2 linked regions of the Homo sapiens genome follow. The protein of the gene in region 1 purifies or fractionates together with the protein of each later gene. This does not show direct contact. Each region holds a gene or a part of one and is shown on either strand. Other genes may lie near its edges.

Region 1 (3,753 bases):
TTTCCTGGGCCTCAGAGCCACGATACATCTTGGGCTTATTCCCATCACCAAGGCACTCTCTCTAGATACCCTTACAGTGCTAGCAGAGGGGCATAATGGGAAGGGAAATTTCAGGAGCTGAGCTGACTGTGAGAGGCTCTGAGTAAGTCTTGACTGGGTCTAGGAATATTCCCAGAGTTGTTTGGTTGGGATGAGAAAGTGGGAAAGTGGGAGAGAAGCAAAGCCTGTAGATTGTCCTAACATTTTCTTCTCTAGTTCTATTTCCTTGCCTCTTCCCACTTTACAATATACTCTTGGCCTTGTCCTATTCCTGGGACCCCTCATCAATTTATATCATTTACTTCTCTCCGTAGGAAAAAAAAAAGAAAAAGATTTCTTTTCAAGATGTCATTTTTTGCTCTTGTACTAATAAAAGAGCAACTCATGCTTAGTGCATAAATTTTGTAAAAATATGAAAATGACAATTAAATTTAAAAATAATTGTTAATCTTGTCAACCTATGCTAACATTTGTGCATATATTCTAGTAGACTTTTTCTTATGTACATATATATTTTTATATAGTGGATAATCCTGTGACTATTTTTAAGTTTAACATTTACAATAAATATTTTCCTGTACTCCTAAATATTTTCAAAAATTTCATAGATTGGTAGATTACTCTGCCAATTAATCACCAGTTGTTGACAAGCTTGGTGGTTTCAGTTTTTCCCTATTGTAGAAATTCACTATTAGTTACATAATGATAACTAAATCCTTGAGTATTTATTTATTTATTCCTTGGGAAAGCCAATAAAAGTAGAAATACAGATAATTCAATCTGTGCATAAATATTACCAATTCTCTCTTCATAATGTTTAGGCTATACTTGCACCAACAAAGAAATGGTCTGAAAATGTCAGACCATTTCCTTCATCTTGACCCTGATATAGACATTCAGAGGATTCAGATGGTAGGTCGGAGGAGCCAGCAGGCTATTGACTATTCACAGTTGTCTAGTGTCACAATCACAGGCCTTACACTCATCCGATGTAAACTTAAAACCCATCTTTACAGAGGCAGATACTAAAAAATTAAAATTAAAATTAAAAAACCATCTTTATCATTTGCTAACTCCATGACCTTGGGTAACTCATTTCACTTCTGGAAAACTCCATTAAATCACATGGAAAAATTATAGCACAGGCATACCTCATAGATATTACAGATTCAGTTCCAGGCCACCCTAATAAAGTGAGTCAAACAAATATTTTGGTTTCTCAGTGCATATAAAAGATATGTTTACACTATACTGTGATCTACTAAGTGTGTGACAGCATTATGTATAAAAACAGTGTACATATCTTAATCCAAAAATAGTTTATTGATAGACATCAATACCAAGAGCTCTCAAAACCACACACTTACATGTGCTTGTTAGTACATGCTCCTGTTCCTGAATGACTTTTTGGTAAACAACAAAATTAAGACAGAAATCAAGAAGTTTTTTGAAACTAATAAGAACAAAGATACAACATACCAAAATCTCTGGGACACAATTAAACCAGTGTTGAGAGGAAAGTTTATAGCACTAAATGCCCACATCAAAAAGTTAGAAATATCTCCAATTAACCTAACATCACACCTAGAGGAACTTGAAAAACAAGAGCAAACCAACCCCAAAGCTAGTAGAAGAAAAGAAATAACCAAAATTAGAGCTGAACTGAACAAAATGGAGATAAGGGAAACCATACAAAAGATCCATGAAACCAAAAGTTGGTTCTTTGTAGAATAAATAAGACTGGTAGACCACTAGTTAGACTACTAAAGAAAGAGAAAATCCAGATAAACACAATCAAAAATAACAAAGGGGATATTACCACTGACCCCATAAAAATACAAACAAAAATCAGAGACTATTACAAACACCACTATGCACACAAACTAGAAAACCTACACAAAATTGATAACCTCTTGGAATCATACAAACTCCCAAGATTAAACCAGGATGAAATTGAACAGACCAATAACAAGTACCAAAATTTAATCAGTAATTAAAAAAAAACTTACCAACCAGAAAAGGCCCTGGACCAGATGGATTCACAGCCAAATTCTACCAGACATATAAAGAAGAGCTGGTGCCAATCCTACTGAAATTATTCCAAAAACTTGAGGAGGAGGGACTCCTCCCTAATTCATTCTATGAAGTCAGCATCATTCTGACATCAAAACCTGGCAGAGAGACAACAGAAAAAGAAAACTTCAGACCAATATCACTGATGAACATAGATGCAAAAATCCTAAACAAAATACTAGCAAACCAAATCCAGCAGTATATCAAAAAGCTAATCCACCACATTGTTTCCTGTTGGGAGCTCCCTGCAATACCCACCCCCCCTCCCCCCTGCCCCGCAAAAAAATGAATTCACCACAATCAAGTAGGCTTTATCCCTGGGAAGCAAGATTGATTCAACATATGCAAATCAATACATGTGATTCATCACATAAACCAAACTTTAAAAAAAGATCATCTTAATAGATGCAGAAGAGGCTTTTGATAAAATTTAACATCTTTTCATGTTAAAAACCCTCAACAAACCAGACATCAAAGGTACATACCACAAAATAGTAACAGTCAACTCTGACAATCCCACAGCCAACATCATAATGAATTGACAAAAGCTGGAAGCGTTCCTCTTGAGAAGCGGAACAAGACAAGGATGCCCACTCTTGCCACTCCTACTCAATATAGTATTGAAGTCCTAGCCAGAGCAATCATGCATGAGAAAGAAATAAAAGTCATCTAAATAGGAAGAGAGGAAGTCAAACTATGTTTGACAGACAATATTCACAGACAATATAAGCCTAGAAAACCCTGTAGTCTCTGCCCAAAGCTTCTAGATCTGATAAACCACTTCAGCAAAGGTTCAAGATACAAAATCAATGTACAAAAATCAGCATTTCTAGCAGCATTTCAATCGTATGAAATGCATAGAAATATGTCCAAGCTGAGAGTCAAATCAAGAATGCAATCCCACTCACAATAGCCACAATAAGAATAAAATACCTAGGAATACAGCTAAACAGGGAGGTGAAAGAGCTTTACAATGAGAATTATAAAACACTGTATCAGAGACAACACAAACAAACAGAAAAACATTCTATGCTCATGGATAGGAAGGGTCAATATTGTTAAAATAGTCATACTGCCCAAAACAATTTACGGATTCAATGTTATTCCTATATACAAACTACCAACATTTTTCACAGAATCAGAAAAAGCCATTTGAAAATGCATTTGGAAGCAAAAAGGGCCTGGATAGCCAAAACAATTCTAAGCAAAAAGACCAAAGCTGGAGGCATTATACTTCCAGACTTCAAACTATACTACAAGCCTACAGTAACCAAAACAGCATGGTACTGGTACAAAATGAGAATCATTAACAAATGAAACAGAATAGAGAACCCAGAAATAAAGCTACACACCTACAACTGTCTGATCTTCAATGAAGCTGACAAAAACAATCAATGGGAAAAGGACTTCCTATTCAATAAATGCTACTGGCATAACTGGCTAACCATATGCAGAAGAATGAAACTGGACCCCCACTTTTTACCACATACAAAAATCAATACAAGATGGATTAAAGACTTAAATGTAAAATCTAAAGCTATAAAGACCCTAGAAGAAAATCTAGAAAATACCATTCTGGACATTGGCCCAGGCAAAGACTTCATGATAAAAACTCTACAAGCAATTGCAACCAAAACAAAA
Region 2 (3,653 bases), on another chromosome or scaffold:
CAAAAAGATAAAAATAAATAAAAATAAAAATAAAAATAAACCAAATGAATGAAGTTTCCCTCCAAGTTTGTCATCTTCATCTTAGGAAATAGCTTAAAGTTTAATAAAGTTTACACATGCCAATTTTGTGAATATCAAATTCAACACTTTGGAAACACAAGCTTCTAAATAAACTGTTTCACTGTGACAGTGTCCTTGAGAATACATGCCATCCAGAGGTAATTCTGCTTTATACTCAGATTCTTTCCATACTTCCAAAAAAGGATCAATATTAGACCTGTACAACAAATTACACTCTTTTACAGAAAACAATAAAATATCCAAGTCTCTCACCAAATTTTCAAAAAAGAGGAAAAGTGTAAGCTTCCAGATGAAAGTTTCTATAGCTTTCCCCAAATTTAGTACCACCATGAAAAACAAATTCTTCACTCATTCAAGGCATACGACTAGAAAACTAATTTCCATGGCATCAAATTAATTTCCTCCTTTGGAGATAAAACCATGAGATCTTTTCCAAAGCATTAAAATCGCCAAGAAAAAAAAAAAAAGAAAAAAAAGACCATTACCAGCATTTTAAAACTGAGTAAGAGAATGAAGTAAACAAAAAAGGGAAAGAAAAAGCTTCAAAAGTTCATTTTTCTCCTAATTTCTTGAACTCTCTATTCCAGAAGTACCTAATGTTTTTCTTAAAAGAGAGGCTTTCAATTTTTCCCTATGTCTAAAGGCTGCTTTAAGTAGCCTAAGACCAAGGACAGGAGAGTGAAAATGAAGAGGGTTTTGGCTCTCCAAGGTGGGGGTGGAATTGCAGCTACTGCTTAGGGATATTTTCCAGTGGTCATCTCTTCAAACTCCAGTGAGTCTCACAAACAGGGTGCACCAGCCAATCCAAGTATCCAGTATCTACAATGCAAACTGTAGATACTATCCAAATTGACAGTAGATAGCTCAGTAAATAGCTGAGCAAACTGCAATGATAGCTCAGTCTTGAACTCTGGAAATAAATTTCCAAAAGCCTTCCCCAGTGGCACTTCAAACTCAAAAACGCTTACAAAACTAATCACATTTTCCAAACCTGCTTCCACCACTACCCGACCTGTTGCTCCTCCTTCCTGTATTTCCTATACCTCGGAGATTAGCCTCACATTGAATCTACCTCCCAAGAGGCATGTTGCTTTTAAAATCCTTCACTAACTCCTTGCTCCCTACAGAAGAAAATCCAAACTATGTATCATGGCATTCAAGACCCTTTGTGGTAAGTTCTCTATCTCTTCAGTCATACCACTTTTTCTGTGCTACATAATACCAAGTTTTCTAGCCATTCTAAAAAATTCAAAGGTCCCTGGAATACAAAATCTTCCTTATACCTGGAAAGTTATCCCTACCCTACTCCATCTGTAAAAGCCTTATTCATTCTTTAAGACTCAGGTCAATGACTGTCTTCTCGGTCAATATTTTCCTGACTCTTTTTCAAGAAAAGTTGAGCAATCATTCCCTCTATTTTCCTATTATTATAGAACTCTGTGCTTTTAAAATTCTTGTATTAATATTAATATCTATTATGTTGCCTTTTTGTTTGTTTGCTTCTGTTTCCCCCCAATGACTGATCTCCTTAAAGGCAGAGTTTTTGCCTTATCCATTGCTTATATAGTCCTTAAAATGCTATGAAATGCATAGTAGGCAGTTTGTCAAATTAATTTAACTTATTATTGACCAGCTGTGTTTTGGTTTTCCTCTGTTCAGTCCACTTACATTTCTAAAAATTAAGAAAAAGTCTAGAGAAGATTAAAATGACACATCTTCTAACCTTTTACTCCTACTTCTGAAATCTATGTGGTTCACTAGTACTTCCATTTGCTACTAAATCAACTTAAGTCTTACCACTAAGACGATGCTACACACTATTCCTTTTCCTTACTCTTAACTACTCAAGGTGAGCCTTTTTCTACACATGCTTATAGCAGTTTATTGTCAGTACTTGTCAGCTACAAAATGGTAAAAAAATTTTAAACAAAAAATAAAACAAAACTTCTATAAGAGTGACTTTGACTATTTTGTTAACCAAATCTCCGGTTTTGTTTTTTTTTTTTTTTTTTTTTTTGAGACAGAGTCTCGCTCTGTCACCCAGGCTGGAGTGCAGTGGTGCGATCTCAGCTCACTGCAAGCTCCGCCTCCCGGGTTCACGCCATTCTCCTGCCTCAGCCTCCTGAGTAGCTGGGACTACAGGCGCCCACCACCAGGCTCAGCTAATTTTTTGTATTTTCAGTAGAGACGGGGTTTCACAGTGTTAGCCAGGATGGTCTCCATCTCCTGACCTCGTGATCCACCCACCTTGGCCTCCCAAAGTGCTGGGATTACAGGCGTGAGCCACCGCGCCCAGCCCAAATCTCCAGTTTCTAAACTGGTAAGCTCAAGTTGCTATGCCTCAAGGAATTTGAGAGAATATTTAATGTAAGATTCAGGACCCAATAGTAAGAATTGTACTCAGGACATCTGATCTTCATTGAAAAGGATTCTAATGCAACTTCAGTCCTCATAGCAAGGAAGTACTATTTCAGAAAGTCCCTAGATTCTCAGATGCACTGGCAAGCACCATACACTGAATAATTCACAGAAGATTTTAGTCACTTGCTCACTCATCCACTTGAAGTAAGAAAAATCAATCACTGCATGTTTATTGTTCTATAATAAAGCAAATGTTAGAAATAAAAGTTAGAAATGTCAAACACACTAAATTGTTACATAATAAACTAATCAAGACACAACTTTTATTCAGGACATGGATATTTCTGAAATGAAAACAAAAGAAGAGAATTGACTTAAAATGTTTATAAATACGAATATTATGACAGAACCAAAGCTATTTATGAGCATTATTTTTAAAAGCTTGTTTAAGTATTATGCACTTGTCTGTGTGACATTTTGTAAAGCGGAGAAAAATTAAGGAGAAAGGAATTGTAGAACACTAACAGGAAGAGGACAGATACTGAGGAATGGCTCATAGTATAAGTGAGATTATCAGAGACTTTCTACAATGGAATTTGAAATGCAGGGAGCACATTTGGTGTATGGTTGTAGAGGACTTACACTAAGGGCATTCTTCTGCTACCTCTGCCAGCAGATGAGTGGCTCCTGAGAATGCATACCAAATTAATTCCCCAGCTGTTCACATGCATATAAGCAGCTGCTGCTGTTACTGCCTAACACTTATGGCAGTCTGGCAGCACCTCTAATCTCTGCCATAGCAGACAAGCCACTCACCTAAGGCCTCTGCTGTACTTCCAAAGAAAGAATTTCTCCAGTAGAGACTGAGTGGAACTAGACTGCCAGCTGTGAGCCTCAGAGCTCCTGGCTGCCTGTTGCTGAGTCTATTAGCTGCTGAGCCTTTCTCACCAAAAAAAAAAAAAAAAAAAAAAAAATGAGCTTAATAAAATAACCCTGCACAGAAATTTTCTGAAATTAAGATAACATTCAATGGAAAACAGAATTTAATCTACAGAAATACACTTCACAGATGTTTTAGGAACAGAACCTAGAGAAAATGAAAGTCAAAATTTAATAAAAGAATTTGTCAGGAACTTCAAGGTAAAGACTCCATGTATTTTTTGGCAACTATAAAACACTAAGAAGGCTTTTTAAATATTAAAAAGCCATTT

What was found. The genes of interacting proteins can lie anywhere in the genome.
Region 2: the proteins of WFDC11 (region 1) and ZNG1A purify together in Homo sapiens (affinity purification with mass spectrometry; one large-scale study listed by BioGRID and IntAct). This does not show direct contact.

What each region holds. Positions count from the first base shown.
Region 1 is NC_000020.11:45,668,130-45,671,882, forward strand, and holds the start of WFDC11 (protein WFDC11 precursor), read right to left. Parts: upstream 2,111-3,753; 5' UTR 2,049-2,110; intron 1-2,048.
Region 2 is NC_000009.12:148,047-151,699, forward strand, and holds part of ZNG1A (zinc-regulated GTPase metalloprotein activator 1A), read right to left. Parts: intron 3,382-3,653; exon of another isoform or gene 3,259-3,381; intron 2,680-3,258; coding exon of another isoform or gene 2,661-2,679; exon of another isoform or gene 1-2,660. UniProt on the Homo sapiens protein: Zinc chaperone that directly transfers zinc cofactor to target metalloproteins, thereby activating them.